Linked DNA regions of Homo sapiens: region 1 is reported to be linked to region 2. The links are microRNA targets in miRTarBase. Many come from high-throughput screens and were not tested one by one. Region 2 holds a microRNA gene; the other region holds the end of a gene's coding sequence.
What was found. The annotated mature microRNA hsa-miR-550a-5p reads AGUGCCUGAGGGAGUAAGAGCCC and lies in region 2 at 4,423-4,445, opposite strand. An mRNA with a match to its seed (bases 2 to 7 or 8) in the 3' UTR can be bound and repressed. Matches are read on the target gene's strand: a 7mer-m8 pairs with bases 2 to 8, a 7mer-A1 pairs with bases 2 to 7 and ends in A, and an 8mer does both.

Region 1: miRTarBase lists CDCA7 as a target of hsa-miR-550a-5p. Seed matches in the 3' UTR shown: 7mer-A1 at 1,263-1,269 and 8mer at 1,674-1,681.

Annotation. Positions count from the first base shown.
Region 1 is chr2:173,366,886-173,375,896 of GRCh38, forward strand. It overlaps CDCA7 (cell division cycle associated 7), which reads left to right. Exons shown (of 10, transcript NM_031942.5): 9 at 265-401; 10 at 749-2,112. The coding sequence ends at 779. Among named protein-coding and RNA genes, the nearest start is that of CDCA7, 17 kb to the left of the region's middle. RefSeq lists an enhancer at 3,464-3,563.
Region 2 is chr7:30,285,249-30,294,259 of GRCh38, reverse strand. MIR550A1 (microRNA 550a-1) reads right to left here and starts at 4,466; the gene lies at 4,370-4,466. ZNRF2 (zinc and ring finger 2) reads right to left here. Exons shown (of 5, transcript NM_147128.4): 1 at 8,434-9,011. The coding sequence starts at 8,902. MIR550B1 (microRNA 550b-1) reads left to right here and starts at 4,370; the gene lies at 4,370-4,466. It overlaps LOC105375218 (a long non-coding RNA gene), which reads left to right and starts at 8,175. Exons shown (of 4, transcript NR_136267.1): 1 at 8,175-8,200. RefSeq lists silencers at 8,418-8,547, 8,698-8,777, 8,858-9,011.

The DNA.
Region 1 (9,011 bases), not on the chromosome of region 2:
ATGGTGCTGCATAGGCATGAGCCGCTTCTACGATACTCGGGTCTGAACTGTCCCTGGGAAGTTGCTGCTCCATTTATCCCTGGTAGCTGCTTGTAACTTCCACTCCTGGAAGGAAGCATTAGGCATTAGGAAACATTAGGCATGACTAATGCCTATTAATCATATAAATTTTTAACCATAAAGAAGGGGTTAAATGTAATGTAGATAAGTTGGTGGGGGAGGTAAGGTTTAACTTAATTGTGCCGTTTGACAATCCTCCTTCAGAACTGGCATTGCCCGCCTTGTCGAGGAATCTGCAACTGCAGTTTCTGCCGGCAGCGAGATGGACGGTGTGCGACTGGGGTCCTTGTGTATTTAGCCAAATATCATGGCTTTGGGAATGTGCATGCCTACTTGAAAAGGTAGTGGGTGTTTTTTTTTCCCTTCCACATCTGAATTTTATATTCATTTATGTCTTAATGAGAAGATGATAGATGTCAGAAGAGTGGTTATCTCTGGCGGGGTGGAGACTGACTGGAACGGGGCACACTGGAAGGGATGGGAACATTTTCTGTCTTCACTTAGGTGGTGGTAACCCGGGTGGGTGGGTGTGTATGAAAAAGTCAGGTAATATACTTGAAGATGCGCACACTTGACCATAGTGATGTTATAACTCAATAAAAATGGTTTTAAAAATGAATTAGGCTTTCAAAAGAGAATTCTTTGGTTGAAAACTATGTCCTGACACATTTCCTTTTGTTTTTCACAGCCTGAAACAGGAATTTGAAATGCAAGCATAATATCTGGAAAATTTGCTGCCTGCCTTCTACTTCTCAAATCTTTCTTGTAAAAGTTTCCAATTTTTTCACTGAAACCTGAGTTAAAAATCTTGATGATCAGCCTGTTTCATAAGAAACTCCAATCAAGTTAATCTTAGCAGACATGTGTTTCTGGAGCATCACAGAAGGTATATTGCTAGTTACACTTTGCCCTCCTGCAGTTTCTTCTCTGCTCCCAACCCCCATCTCACAGCATCCCCCTCTATTTCCAATGCTCCTCTCCAACCGCTTAGTTTCTGAATTTCTTTTAAATTACAGTTTTATGAAAGCATATTTTATTTACTTGGTGTTGAAATAGCCCTCATAAAACCTAAGCACTTGGAAACACAATAATAGTATTAACTAACTAGATCTATTGAATTTCAGAGAAGAGCCTTCTAACTTGTTTACACAAAAACGAGTATGATTTAGCATTCATACTAGTTGAAATTTTTAATAGAATCAAGGCACAAAAGTCTTAAAACCATGTGGAAAAATTAGGTAATTATTGCAGATTGATGTCTCTCAATCCCATGTATTGCGCTTATGTTACAAGTTGTTGTCACAGTTGAGACTTAATTTCTCCTAATTTCTTCTGCCCGAAGGGTAAGTGGTGCGTCCAGCTTACACAATCATAATTCAAAGGTTGGTGGGCAATGTAATACTTAATTAAAATAATGATGGAAGAGCTATCTGGAGATTATGAGTAAGCTGATTTGAATTTTCAGTATAAAACTTTAGTATAATTGTAGTTTGCAAAGTTTATTTCAGTTCACATGTAAGGTATTGCAAATAAATTCTTGGACAATTTTGTATGGAAACTTGATATTAAAAACTAGTCTGTGGTTCTTTGCAGTTTCTTGTAAATTTATAAACCAGGCACAAGGTTCAAGTTTAGATTTTAAGCACTTTTATAACAATGATAAGTGCCTTTTTGGAGATGTAACTTTTAGCAGTTTGTTAACCTGACATCTCTGCCAGTCTAGTTTCTGGGCAGGTTTCCTGTGTCAGTATTCCCCCTCCTCTTTGCATTAATCAAGGTATTTGGTAGAGGTGGAATCTAAGTGTTTGTATGTCCAATTTACTTGCATATGTAAACCATTGCTGTGCCATTCAATGTTTGATGCATAATTGGACCTTGAATCGATAAGTGTAAATACAGCTTTTGATCTGTAATGCTTTTATACAAAAGTTTATTTTAATAATAAAATGTTTGTTCTAACTTGTCTGCTTTTTTAAAAATAATCTTACTGTACTTAATTCTAATTTTTTCCTCATATTTAAATAAAAGGCCATTTCCACCTTTTCTAAAAAAGTCTCCCTTTTGACTGAAGTTTCTGAAGTTCTAAGGTCAGCTTGTTTGAAAGGACCTCACTAGGTGACAGGACTAATACCTGTGATCAGAAAACGGGCGGAGACAACCACAGTGCCTGATAGAAAACAATATGTGCCCATGAAGTTTTGTAGTGTTTTCTTTTCCTTTATGATGTGCTTTGCAATACCTGGCTTACTTTTATCAACCATTCAAACATATATTAAATGCATGCTGTGCCTTGAGGCTTGTTCCAGGACTGTGAGAATCAACAAAAAAGGCATGGTCTAAAAGCTCTCATAGCCCAATTCTTTTTTTATTTTTTGTAGAGACAGGTCTTGCTATGTTGCTCAGGCTGGTTTCAAACTCCTGGGCTCAAGGGATCCTCCTGCCTTGGCCTCCCAAAGTCACAGGCAAGAGCCACCACCACACCGGCTGTCCAATTCTTTAGACCAGGGATTGGCAAACTACAGCCTGTGGGCTACATGCTGCTGCAGAGTTTATTCGTATGGCATATGAACTAAGTATTTTTTTTTCCATTTGGAAAGGGTTGTTAAATAAGCAGAGACAATATGGTTCACAAAACCTAAGATATTTACAACCTGGCACTTTACAGAAAAAGTTTACTGTGTCTGCTCTAGAGTTATTTGAGAAGCCATGTTTACCCCATGCTCATCTGGGGAGAAGAACAAGCTAAGTGAAATTGTACAACTGGTATTCTGTGTAGATCCAAAAGAAATCAGTAACTTTGTTTTTGTAAACTTTTTGGATCTTAACCCAAATTATAATCCAACCTTATTGGATATGTAATTGGGAAGCTTAAATGTTTAGAGTTCATATAAATTGATGCTTATTTGGAAAAGTTCAGGTGATACCATGTTTTAATAGGAAGTAGAACTAATGGTGGTTTTCATTAAAAATTAACTGTAACAGTTGATTTGGATGCCTTATCCTTAAAGGATTTACAATCTAATGGGGGAACTAAGATGAAAACCCAAAAATAATGTTCTCAGCAGGAATGAAGGGAAAAAAACAAATTGGCATTTTCCCATCACCAGACATTTTAAAACATGGGTGAGCTCCTGGGTTTTGTGATGATCCCATTTTATAATAAGGAGCCTTAGGTCAGTTGCTCAGCCTCAGCCTTGACTGTGGGAGCCCACGGGGCCCACTGCAGAGCTCCACAGGCCATCCTGAGTGGAGAGAACTCCGGTTTTCACAGCTAGCTGCAAAAAATGGTGTTAGGGTGGCTGTGCCCCAGGAACTGCTTTCATATTTGTTTCTTCAACCTGAGGTAGAGTTTTCTGAGGTAGAGATGGTATTTACGTTTTGATTCTTACTTAGGAGTTAAGAAATGACATACGAACTAAAAAGGCTTTCACAATGAAGGGCAAAGGCTGCAGTTAGAGGGTTTTGCTGGAAGGTTTTGTTTTTGTTTCATTTTGCTTTTAGAAGAAAGTGAGAGGGGACTTCTGATTGCCCCAGGAAGGAAATGAGGTCACTGGGAGAATGGAACTAGAGGTCTCAGTGCTTTAGGAGAAGATGGGAGTATGGGGACAGTATTAGGTACTCAGTCCTGAGGGGAATAGGAGGTTTTATGTTAATGCTAACCTCACATCCATTAGATGTCTGAAAGAATGGGGAAGTAAATCCAGATAAGTTGAGAAAAATGCCCAGTATCACACAGCTCCAAAGAGGCAAAGCTAGGCCAAACACCAGAGAGAGGACTTTATTCTTTTTTTCCCTCTTTAAGCTGACTTTGCCTTAGGAGTCAAAGAAGAGCGGGTTGTTGATAAGGTTCTGGCAGGGAGAACAAGGGCATCTTGGGTGCTGGGTACAGCCTGGCTGATGTGGCTTACTGTAGAAACCCTGCTGAACAGGGAGGCTGGCAGGGCTGGAAGGGGTCTGAGCGTTTGTGTGGATCAGGGGGTTGCACTGGGGGCGAAGATGGGTGGAGAGCAGGTTCAGAAGGAATGAGGCAGTGGGACAGTAGGAAACCAGGGCTTTGGATGATCCTACATGGATGTTAGAAACCCCCGAGGTTTTAACTGAAGGGCATGGGAATCCTGTGGGTGGAGAGGACTCCTTAGATAACTACAAGGTTGGGGAAGGAGGAGGAAAAGCAGGGGGCAAGAAAACTTTCTAGGAGCCGTTGCTGTGAGACAACGGAAGAGGGACTAGAGCTTGGGGTGGCAATAAAGAGCCAGCAATCTGACTGGGACTGTAAGGGATGGACTCCTGGTTGCAGAGGAACTGGCACATTCCAGAGAAAGTCCTTTATCTGTTATAACATCCAGGTGATGTAAGCATTTGAGGGAAGGAGCAAGGAACAAAAGAGATACCACTCAAAGCTGAAAGCCATGAACATTTTGTTTTTTTCTAATCTGTATTTTGTTTTGTATGGTAGCACTTACACTACATATGCAACTATTAGCATTAAAATTTGGCCCCAGTGTGGTCTTTGGTAGCTTCTTTTGTTTTCTGGTAAGATCCAATGTTACAGGCTCACTCTTACACATTCTCTACCCTAAGCCTGGAGTCAGCCATTTCTCCCAAGTGCTTTGCTTTCAAAACATTTCTTTTATATCTATCTATTAATTGTTAGTATATTTGTGTATATATACATGTATACACATGCATACATATACATATTGGTATTTATATGTAAAAATAATGTGGCTATGTATACATATGGCTTCAGAATTATAATATGTATATAGTATAATACATATAATATAGAATATAAAATTGTATATTTAAATTATATAATATAGTTATATATTAAAATATATAATATCAAATTAATATGTAATATAAAATTATAATTACATAATAATTATATAGTAACACAGAATTATAGTACATATAATATGGCTTCAGTATAATTAGGCTGGGCGCGGTTGGCTCATACCTATAATCCCAGCACTTTGGGAAGCTGAGGCGGGAGGATTGCTTGAGCCCAGGAGTTCAAAACCATCCTGGGCAACATAGTGAGACCCTGTCTCTACAAAAAATAAAAAATTAGGCCTTGTTAGCCTCCTATTGCCTTTCAGATAAATGGTAGCATACTACTTACTACATACTCTTTTTACCCTGCCTTTTTCACTTAACTATATATATGGGAGATAAACATAATTTTATTATACAAAGAATTCTGGCCGGGAGCAGTGGCTCATGCCTGTAATCCCAGCACTTTGAGAGGCCGAGGGGGGTGGATCACCTGAGGTCATGAGTTTGAGACCAGCCTGGCCAACATGGTGAAACCCCATCTCTACTAAAAATACAAAAATTAGCCAGGCCTGGTGGCACACCTGTAATCTCAGCTACTTGGGAGGCTGAGGCTCAAGGATTGCTTGAACCTGGGAGGTGGAGGCTGCAGTGAGCCAAGATCGTGCCATTGCACTCCATCCTCAGCAAGAGAGCGAGACTCTGACTCAAAAGAAAAAAAAAAGAATTCTGAAGTTATAATCAGTACTCACAAGTACGAACATGGAATTAAGCTTTAGAGTTTCAGAGGAAAAAAAATATTGTAGATAATTGTTTTCTGTTCTAGTCAAATGCCCAAGGACAGACTATTCTGTGGGCTTATGCTAGGAAAGTCAAATTTCAGCCGGGCTCAGTGGCTCACACCTGTAATCCCAGCACTTTGGGAGGCCAAGGTGGGCGAATCACTTGAGGTCAGGAGTTTGGGACCAGCCTGGCCAAAATGGTGAAACCCAACCCAGTCTCTACTAAAAATACAAAAATTAGACAGGTGTGGTGGTGTGTACCTGTAATCCCAGCTACTCGGGAGGCTGAGGCAGGAGAAGCAGGAGAATCATTTGAACCTGGGAGGCGGAAGTTGCCATGAGCAGAGATTGTGCCACTGCTCTCCAGCCTGGGCAACAGCCAGACTCAGTCTCAAAAAAAAAAAAAAAAAAAAAAGTAAAATTTCCTCTCCTCACACACTTAGTAGGCAAGCCATATCAACAGGAACCAGTATTTCAGTTTTATTTTTATTTGGTTTTCCATACTTTAATAGACTAATCCTTAAGTTTGTCTTCTAAATTGAATAGCTATAAATGTTTTTCACTGCTTAATGACCATCCACTGTGTTTTTTTGAGATGGAGTCTCGCTTTGTCCCAGGCTGGAGTACAGTGGCACAATCTCGGCTCACTGCAACCTCCGCCTCCCAGGTTCAAGTGATTCTCCTGCCTCAGCCTCCCGAGTAGCTGGGATTACAGGCGCCCGCCACCACACCCGGCTAATTTTTGTATTTTTAGTAGACACAGGTTTTCGCCCCATGTTGGCCAGGCTGGTCTTGAACTCCTGACCTCAGGTGATCCACCTGCCCTCAGCTTCCCAAAGTGCTGGGATTACAGCCGTGAGCCACTATGCATGGCCTGTTTTTTTTTTTTTTTTTTTTTTAAACTGGTAATCACCACTGGCACTTGCCTGAATTTCCAAGATGTGACCATTTCGAGTACCCTAGTGCTTAAGGAGGAAAAATATGTAAATAAAATTCCTTTATGCAAATGCTTTCTGCAACTCTCATTGCCAGCCAAATTCTTGTAAATCATGATAAACAGATGCTACTGAACTAAATGAGTAAGTAAAATTATGGAGATAGATTCTATTTATCTTATTTTTCAGTGTTGGGGAGGGAGAAAAGGATATTAACTAAATTTTTTCTGTGCATGATGATTAGGGCAGACACCAAGAACTCTATTAATTGATTTTAGCAAGGCAGGATTTGGGACTCAGCTAGAGAGCTGCCCCTGGTAAGGGAAAAGTTCTATTGCAACTTTGCTTGACCAGAGAACTGGGTTTGGAAATAATTCAATATCAAGCTTGCTAGGTTCTGCCTATTGTTCAGCTTTTTGTTGCTTTTTTTCCGCCAACGTTTAAAAAAATTGTAGTAAAATTCACATAACATAAAATTTACCACTTTAACCCTTTCAAAGTATACAACTAGGTGGCTTCCAGTACATTCACAATGTTGTGCAACCATCATCACTATGTAACACTAGAACATTTTCATCACTCCCAGAAGAAACCTCGTACCCATTAAAAAGTCACTCCTTTTTTTCCTCTCTCCAACCCATGAGAACCTATTGCTTTCTGTCTCTGGATTTGCTTATATGCTGGACATTTGGAAACATACAATATGTTGCTTTTTGTATCTGGCTTTTTTGTTTTTCTAAACAGACAGGGTCTTACTGTGTCACTCAGGGTTGAGTGCAGCAGTGTGTGATCACAGCTCACTGCATCCTGGAACTCCTGGACTTAAGCAATCATGTCACCTCAGCCTCCCAGGTAGCTGGGAATTACAAGCATGAGCTACGACACCAAGCAGGGTCCTTTCACTTACTAATTCATTCATGTTAGGCCGGGTGCAGTGGCTCATGCCTGTACTCCCAGCACTTTGGGAGGCCGAGGCAGGTGGATCACTTGAGTCAGGAGTTTCAGACCAGCCTGGTCAACATGGTGAAACCCCATCTCTACTAAAAATATAAAAATTAACCAGGCATGGTGGCAGGTGCCTGTAATCCCAGCTACTTGGGAGGCTGAGGCATGAGAATCGCTGGAACTCGGGAGGCAGAGGTTCTAACGAGCCTAGACTGCACCATGGCACTCCAGCCTGGGTGACAAGAGCGAGACTCCGTGTTAAAAAAAAAATTAATAAATAAGATTCATCCATGTTGTATGTATCATCATTTTATTCCTCTTCATGCCCAAATATTCCATTGTATGGATATACCACAATTTATCCATATATCAGTTGGTGGACATTTTGGTTGTTTTCACCTTTTGGCTAGTGTGAATAGTGCGGCTATGAACATTTCACTTACACATTTTAGTTTGAACACCTAATTTCAGTACTCTTTGGTATATACCTAGGAGTGGAATCACTGAATCATATGGTAATTGTATGTTTAACTTTCTGAGGAGCTACCAAACTTTTTCTTAGTGGCTGCACCATTTTACATTTCCACTAGTAATGTGTGAGGGCTCCAGTTTCTCCACGTCCTTGCCAACACTTGTTATTTTCTGGTTTGTGTGTTTGTTTTATAGACATCCTAGTAGGCATGAAATGGTATCTCATTGTGATTTTGGATTCCATTCCTTAATGACAGATGATGTAGAGCATACTTTTATGTACTTGTTGGCCATTAGATTATCTTTGGAAAAAAGTCTACTTCAGCCCTTTGCCCATTTTATTTATTTGTTTATTTAAGAGACAGGGTCTTGCTCTGTCACCCAGGCTGGAGTACAGTGGCATGAGCATAGCTGACTGCAGCCTCAAACTCTTGGGCTCAAGCGATCCTCCCACTTGGCCTCCCAAAGCACTGGGATTACAGGCGTGAGCTACTGTGTTCAGACCCTTTGCCCATTTTAAATTGGGTTCTTTTCTTTTTGTTTTGAGTTTAAGAGTTAATATATTCTGGATATTAGATCTTTAGCAGATATGTGATTTGCAATTATTTTCTCCCATTTCTGTGGATTTTCCACTTTTATTTTTAACAGCTTTATAGAGATATAATTCACATACCATACAAACATTTGAAATGCTCCATTAAAGAATGCAATCAATGGTTTTTAGCATATCCACAGATATGTACAACCATCACTACTGTCAACTTTAGAACATTTTCAGCACCTCAGGAAGAAACCCTGTATCCTTTAGCTATTATCCCTACCTCTCATCCCTGCTTCCCCTAGGTCTAAGCAACCACCGACCTGTTAATACTTTCTGTCTGTATAGCTTCCCCTATTTCGGACTTTCATATGAATAGAATCATAAAGTATGTGGACTTTTGTGGCTGACCTCTTTCATGTGGCACATAGTGTTTTCAATGTTATCCATCTTATAGCGTGTATGAGTACTTCATTTCTTTTTATGGCCAAATAATATTCCGTT
Region 2 (9,011 bases):
CCTTAAACGCTTTTATCATTAAAAAATAATAAATAAAAAATAAAAGAAGCTAAGAGAAAGAACAAAATTAACTTTACAAAATGAGAACGAACAGAATAGAGGTAACAGTAGAAAAAATTAAAAACCAACAAAAATAGCAAAATGTGTTGTTCAAACTGAGCACTGGCTCTCTGAAACATATTACACATAATCCTGCCTGGGCAATATAGCGAGACCCTGTTCTCCACAAAAAGGAAAGAAAAAAAAGACAATAAAAATAAAAATAAATAACCCATTATGTATGCATGGCTTCATTCTTCTTTTTTTCCTCAGCTCACATATAAATAGGTAAATTAAAGAACTATTACAGACTAATCACAATTCAAGCAAAAATTAGGATATTCCACATGGTCGGAACTTATGAAATTCAAATGACTGAATACATCTATAATTTTCTGACACACTAATATTTTCGTCGCTAAAAAAAGAGCCCTGAATGAAATAATGACTCTGATAGGTGACATTACTCGAAATATATCCACCAATCTGCACTTATAAATATCAAAAACCTCACAAGTTTTTATGGGTTAAAAAATTTTACGTAGTCCCAAAGATTATACCTTGCTAGAAGCTGTTTCCATCTCTAATGAGCAATTTGGCAATAAAGATCCAATGCCTTGAACAAAAGTGTATCTTTGTTTCTGGCAATCCCATGTCGCTGATAAATTTCTAAGAACTGGCCGGGCACTCAGGCCTGTAATCCCAGCACTTTGGGAGGCTGAGGTGGGCGAATCACTTGAGGCCAAGAGCTCAAGACTAGCCTGGCCAACATGGCAAAACCCAGTCTCTACTAAAAATACAAAAATTAGTGAGGCATGGTGGTGCACACCTGTAATCCCAGCTACTTGGGAGGCTGGGGCACAAGAATCACTTGAACCTGGGAGGCAGAGGTTGCAGTGAGCCAAGATCGCACTACTGCACTGTAGCCTGGGTGACAGAGCAAGACTCCATCCCAAAAAAAAAAAAAAAAAATGTAAAAATTTGCTTACCAGGGTGTTCATGGCAACAGTATTTTATTACATCTGTACCAAACAAACAAAATGCTCAACCATAAGGAACAACGAAATAAATCCTTGACTCTTCATTTTCTCTCATACCTCCACATCTAATCCAGGTGGCTCTATCTTCAAAACACGGGATATGCAGAATCTGGCCACTGCTTAGCACCTCCAGCACTGCCACCCAGTCCAAGCCACTGTTATCTTTCATCTGGATTTTTGCCTCCTTGCTGACTCTTGCCACCTCACACAATAGCCAGAGTAATCCTTTAAAACCCAAGTCAGATTATGTCAATCCTCTGCACAAAAATACTCCCCATCCCTCTTTAAAACAAAAGCCGCAAACCACAGGTCAGTGGTTATGAGGCAGTTTATGATTCTGTCCCAACCTCATGCCACCCCACTATGCTCTCATCTTCTACAGCCCTCTGCACTCCAGCTGTAAGTAAACCTACATATCAGGTACACTCATGCCTCAGGGCCTTTATAGTTACTGCTCCCTGTGCCTGAATATGTTTTTACCCCAGAGATCCTCATGACTTGCTCCTTCACTTTCTGCTTGAATTGTCACCTTGTCAGTGAGGTCATCCTTAAAACCCGATTTAAAATAGCAACTATAGATAGGCCTCCACCCCAGAATCTCTATCAGCCTTTGCACTCCATTTTTTTTCCATTACACTCAATGCCCTAACACACTATGTATTTTACTTGTCTGTTTACTATCTCTCCCAAATAGAATAATAAGGCCCCTAAAAGCAGGGATTTTTATCTTATTTCTTCACTGCTGTACCCCCAGAATAGTGTCCGGAAAAGCGCGTCCTCATTAAATATTTGAGTGATTTTTGGAATACTGGGTAATAATTAAAAATCATGTTATAAAAAATTTTAATGTGATGTTAGAAACTGGTGGAAATGGAAACAGCATGTTATCAAAGAATATGTAACCCATGGATCAAGAAGAAATCATATGGGAAATTAAAATACATTTTTCACTGAATGTTAACAAGAACACTTCAACATCAGTGGGATTCAGGTAAAGCAATTCTTGGAGGAAAATGTGTAGCTTTAAAACTTTGTATTAGAACATCAGAAAGGTTAAAATCAAAACAATATAAAAATGAATGTTCCAAATTTTGTGTCTAAAACAAATACATATATAAAAGACATTAACAGTTATTTCTGGTGGTAAAATTACAAGCAATTTGCGATTTTTATACCTGCTTTTCCGTATGTTAGTTTTTCTCTAGTGAACAGGTATTATTTTTATAATTAAAAAAAAACCCAGGTTTTTAAAAAACTTCCTTTCCCTCTGGTTGAATTCTAACTGCTGGCCTCTTCCTCTCCCTGTCTCTTAAAATACTTGCTCCTCTGGATTCCATCCTTGTCCTTCGTCAATCTATATTCATCCCTTAGTAATCTTATCCACTTTCTGGATTCATTTATAACTTGCAAATTGATTTCTCAGTTTTTTGTAATATCCTGAATTAGAGACTCATGTTTCCAACCACTTAAAGTATACTTCTATCCAGATGAAAATCCTGTAGCCACTCAAATTTAACAGGCCTGAAAGGAACTCATTATCATTTCCTAAAACTTGTTCTTTTCATCTTTAATACTGGTTAAAGACATCACTATGTACCCAGGTCAATTCTATCAGTTCTAGCTTAGAAATCTCAATCAAATCTAACTTTTCTTCTCCCTCACCAATGCCATGTTTTCAACATAGGCATCTTCTATCAGTTATATTTTAAAAGAATCCTAACTTATTCTCCTGCTATCACACTCTCCTCCTTAAGAACTGAATCCTGATCAGGGTTGCTGCATACAGCCTGAAGTCTGCACCACTAGAGAAGGTTGCCATCCATGTAAACTACGAGTGTTAATTGTGCCCAATGGCCTAATCATGATACTCCCCCTGCTTTCAAACTTCATTAGATAAAACAAACCTACAGCACTATAAAATCTTTCAACTGGCTCCACTTTCTATTTTTCTAGCTTCAGGTTCTCATCATTCCTCTATGCACCCTACAATCCAGACATATTTAACTTTTCAGTATGCCCTATCAAAACCCACACTTTTGTGGATTTTTCTTTAGTCTGTACTGCCCTCTCTCCGTACAACTTCTAAATCCTTCAAACTACAGTTCAAACGTACCCTCCTCTGTGAAGCATTTTTTGACCAGCCTAGACAAAGATACTTCACTAAGTGTTTTGTTAACAGTTCTATTACAGAATTTGTTGCATTGTATAATGATCACATATATCCATCTCTCAAATTCAATGGAGAGTTGAGCAGTGCATAAAGAAGCTCCATATTTGTACCCTCAGTATCTATAATGTCCAGCCCCTAAAAGGGGTTAAGTTCATGTTTATTAATGCTATACTTAACCATATGCATTAGTACAACTTTTTAAAAGTAAATTAAAATGAGTTTAAAAAAGAAGTTACATGTTCAGCTGTCAATCTATCTATAATCCATGTGGCAGAAAGAACTGATGTGACTATTCTTGATTCCTACACTTCCTGGTGTTTAAACCTTTGTATAATTCCCTCCCCTTGCACGTGAACTGGACCTATGACTTGCTTCTAATGAATGAAATACAGCAAAGGCAATGGGTTGTATGTGATTACATGTACACGATTATGTAAGAACATAGCACCAGTTCACCTTTCCTTTGCTTACTTTGAAGAAGCAAGCTGCTCTGAACCTAACAGACACAAGGAAATAAATTCAGCCAATAACCCAAGGAAGTCTGTGGGCAGACCTTTCCCCAGTTGAGTCACTAGATAACAACCCTGCCCTGACCTACACTTTGACTGCAGTCTTAAAGAGGACACAGCTAAGTTGTGCCCAGCCTCTTGACCCACAGAAATTGCAAGGCAATAAACGTGTTGCTTAGAACCACTAAATTTGCAGTCATTTGTGAATAAGCAGCTTAGAAAACGAATAAAATCAGAACCTAAGGTATTTCTGAACCCTTTGTTCACAAAAAGGCCTATGTTTTGTCCAATTTCTTAACAAATAAATGTCATGTACATGCAAAATTAAAACACAGACTAACATTTCAAATAACAGTTCTTAAGAATATTCACATAAAACTTAGGAAGTAATTTGCTACATAAAGCAGTTCCTACACTCTCTTTTAACACATTTGCCAATATACCCAATTATACATAATACTACATGTAATAAGTTTAATATTAGGGCAATTCTCCTTAAAACCCAAATAATAATAAATAGTTTAAAAGTTGATATCTCATTAATGATATTTGGTAATCAGAAGAACTTAGTTACTGGTCACCAGGCAAAGCGATCAAATTGGAGGAGAGCAAGAGACTTGTTGGAGATGTGCCTGAGGGAGTAAGACACTATCTTACAACAACAGGGCTCTTACTCCCTCAGGCACTGCACCAGCCAGCAAAGCATCAAAATACCAGGTTCTTAGGTCACGCTGCTCTCAGATCAGGTGATGCCCTGTGCAACTCACCAATCCTCCCCACCTTGCAGTCAAGAATAATTCCAAAAAATTCCCAAAGCAGAAACTTCCATGACACAGGCCACACTTACACACAGCAAAACATGTAACACGAAGGTATGAAATTACAAGTGAGGAACAATAACCACCAAAATTCTTATTACTTCAGGAGTGGCAGGGGTTGTGGTTAGAAGGCTCATTTTTCTTAGAAAGAGGCAAACATTCCTCTTCGGCCACTCCCCATAAAAGCCTTCAATGGCACAAAATAACATTCAGGAATAGGAAATAGATTAATTACAATATCCCAAATTCAAACATTTTGGCACTTGATATTGGTAAGAAGTGATAACTGAGACCGATTCCATAATGGTTAATTGATGAAGATAACCTAACACCATAAAACTTCACATCTGCCTTAAAAATTAAGAGAAATCTTCCTAGAAATACAGGTCTTATTCAACATATTCAGTTTTAAGAGATAACCCACACTCCTTCAATATAAGAAAACATGTTTCACAAGTAGCAAGGCACCTGAGTTACAATCAGACTACTGAAATACTCATGAGCAAGCCACACCCAAAAAAGCTCAAGAAAATCAGGAGGCCAAAAGCAACCCAGCACCACTGGTTGTCTTAGATTAAGTCATTTTACATTTTCACTTCTGGACTCAAGGATACATTATAGAAGTCCACACGATTTCTCTGGAAATAATCTCCATGTATTGGTATATTTCTATAGCCCAATTCATCTACCCCATCCTTGCTGCATCATTAAAGGCTATTTGACCACTCATATTATGCTCTTATGAACAACAGCTACTTGACAGTGGAAAAAAAAACGTAGACGTAAATTAAAGCCAAACAAACCCTAAAATACCATCAACATTTTTAAATATTAGGAAATACCCTTAAGACCTGTTTTAAAACAAAGGTGATGGACGACACTAGCAGTAGTCAAGAAAGCGTCTGTTCACTTTAACACTCCTCAGTCTGAAAAGAATAATAAGGACAAGATTTACTTCACCTAAAAACTCCTATATAAATATAATCACATTCTGATGTCTGGCAACTCAATTCTAGGAAATTTCTACACACTGAAATATCTGGATTAGGCATTTTTCTTCCAGTTCTCTAGAGAGAATAAGAGTGTATATAGCCAAAACAGATGTCCAAATGACATCAAAACATAAAACCAACACAGAAAACTTCCTCGTTCAATGTGGCAATTCATTATGAGAGAACTACTAACAATTCCACTTGCTAGACTCTTAAGTGTTAAAAATAAAAGGGGGGGACTGTTTTTCATTTTCTATAAATTACATGAGAGCTCACAAGAGAATAATTTTGAATCTTATTAGTACCACATTTTCTTATTAGGAGACGTTAATAATATAAACAACAATTAAAACAACAGTTTTACAAAAAACAATACGAACTTTCCACTAATTCTGAAATAATCCTTTTATCAATTTTCAGATGCAGTTATTTGTATATAACCATTTATACAATTTGTAACTGAATAAACACAATAATGTTATAATAGATACTAAAAAGTTAAGTAAATGTGAACTAGTCAAGTCTTTTTTAATTATAAGATTCTTCATTTAGCTCCCTAAATCTCAAGATGATGAGAAACATGCTTCTATTGTTTTCCTAATAACCCGTCCACTAAAATATAGGTAAAAATCTCAGTAAGGCAATGCCACTAAGATGGGTTTTTACGTAAATGTATTCCATCTCCCTGCCTCAACAGAGATTTCAGGATGTGGCACTTTCATCTGATCCTGTCATATAATAAGAACAGGTAATTTCTCTGATGTCTTTCCAGCAATTCTCAACTGAGGTTCCTCATCTGAATCACCAAACACAGGAAATTATTTCAGTGACTTTTCTCAATTGTTCCAAGAATGATACATAACTAAAACCGTTCTAAATGCACTGGAGCTAAAAGTTAAAATTCATTGCACACTACGGCACAATTGTCTCCAGAAAGCCGGGTGAGAAAGGCTGCTGTAAGTTCCTCAGAAAGTGTCACTGTACTACTAGGCCCCAGTCACCCAACCCCAACAGCACTAAAAGAACTATAATGAGTGCACAAATCTAGAACTTAGATAAGAAAAAAGATAAATGCTTTATCTCCAACTTTAAGCAACTAGGTATTTTTACTTACTAGGAATAGCATGGGGCTCAACTGTCTCTTGCTCTGAATAGAATGCATTTACTTAACAAAATAAACCCACAGAACTATAATGTTTCTCAAAGGGAATTATCAGCTCTTAGAAAATGAATTTTTAGAAATCAGCATATTAAATAAATATTAACTATTAACTTGACAAGGCTTTTCCTATTCACCCTTCTTTAGCAAACTTAAATATTCATCTTCTAATAATTGCTAAATGCAAATTTTCACTTTAAAAAGATAATGATAAACATTAAAAACCAGTTTGCCCTTCATTCTCGCACTAATCACCAATTCTCAGAAACTGCCTTTTATATTCTTCAGTGCGGACTACAGCAACTTCAACTGTTAGGTTAGTTGTGATCAAATCACTTTAAGGACACCAGTAGAGTTCTTTTACTCAAAATCAAAAGCAAATGACTTTTAAAAATAGCCCAATTTTAAGAGGGATGAATATTTTTAAGAAGCAAAAATTACTTTAAAACAAGGTAGCTAATTAAAAGTCAAGCGTCGTTCCAATTGAATTTGCAAAGCGTTACTAAAAAAATGGGAAAAATGAAACATGACATTCCTGTTTTTAATTTATGCTGGCGTGTGTGCTGATAGTACAGAACATGAGAACGGATAAATTACTACGTATTCCACTTTACTAAGTCTCCAAAGTTCCTACGTTTACAAATATATAAGTAAAAGCGGCACAAAAATGTAGGGGATCGTGTTTTCGCTGCTCATCTGTGCTCAGTTGCTAATTTTTCTAATACCAGATACATAATGCGATGAAATGGGAATGCTTATCTTCTATACTTCTATTTATTTTCATAAAGGGGAGAGGGGAGGTGGTCTTGATTCATTTACTATTAGCGTTTTGCAATAAAGTAGATCAGCATAAAACATAACTGAAGAAGTAGGATTCATTTTCCCCAGGACAACGCACACTTCCTCCTGTTTCTGTAGTAAAGTACATCACTTTGCTATTAAAAATGTCCATTTTTCACAACTGACTTTTCCTTAACTCTAGTCAACACTGCTCTTCAAAAGAACCTAGCCAATTATTGTACCTTGAAGACAGATGTGCAAAATTTTTACTTCCTTAAGAAACTTTTCCATTTTTTAAATGCTTTCCAAATTAAGCAGGACTCACATTAACTGTGATCTTAAGTAGCAGTTTAGTGAGGTTTAAAAACAAACTTTTCATTAACGCATTCATCCAATTAAAATGACATAGTAACTGGGACTACTGACACAGATTTCAGGATTACAGCTTTATACTAAAAGTCGGTCCAAACATGGTAACTCAGTGTTCATTTGAGACGCTTTGACTTTTGGCCTTTAAAAACTGTTCCCCACTCGAGTCCCCAGATAGAACTACATTTAGCAACTGGTCTCCTCCTGACTTCCTGGTACTAAAAACCACAACCACAAGGGCTGTTTCGTCGGTTTGTTGTAAAACAACATTTGCTCCAGTCATCTCACTGGAAAATAGACTTTCTCTACTGGGCAGCCGCTGAGGTGAGGGTGCTCAGGATGTTTAAAAACAAAACCACGCGTCTATGCGGTAGCGGCACCGCCGGTGTTAAGCGCCGGGTTTCTTCCAGGATGGAGACCGACGCGGGCTGGTCCGGGAGGCAGCCCCCGGCGCCCCGGCAGAAGGAGAAAAGGAGAAGGGTAAAAATAGCCGGCGGCCACGGCCCACGTGCAGCCGCGGGAGGACCGAGCGCGGGTGCGCGGAGAGGGGTCCGTACCTCCAAACATGTGCGGCGAGAGGTGAGCTGGTAAGGAGCCGATCACCAGGCGCGGCCCGCCGGGGCTCCCGCCCACCGGCCGGTCCCGGCCGCCGCCGCCGTCCTCAGGGCTGCTGTGCACCGAGTCCTGCGAGCCGTACGGGCCGCTGCTGCTGTTCGGGATGCTGAAGGGGGACTGCGCCGCGCGGGCCCCCGACGCCACGCTCCCCACGGCCCCGCCGAGGGAGCGGCTGCGCGGGGCCGCCGGGGCTGCCGGGGCCGCCGCGGCCGCCGCGGCGCCGCCGGAGGCGCTGGGCTGGTGCGCGCTGGGCACCTGAGCCGGGAACCTCCCCGCGGCGGCGGCCCGAGCGCCCCCGCCGCCGCCCGCGGTCCCATTGGCGCCTCCGCTGCTACTGGAAGGTAGATCCGAGCCCGAGTACGCGCGCGTGCGGCCGTTAGCGGCGGCCGGGCCGCTCTGTTTGGCGCCCATGTCCGCCCTGCCCCGGGCCGGGCCCGCGCGCTGCGCCCCGAGAGCCGGGAGGGCGGGAGCGAGCGCGGGAGCTAGAGGGCAGGGCCCAGGCGCCGCGGCCGGCCCAGAG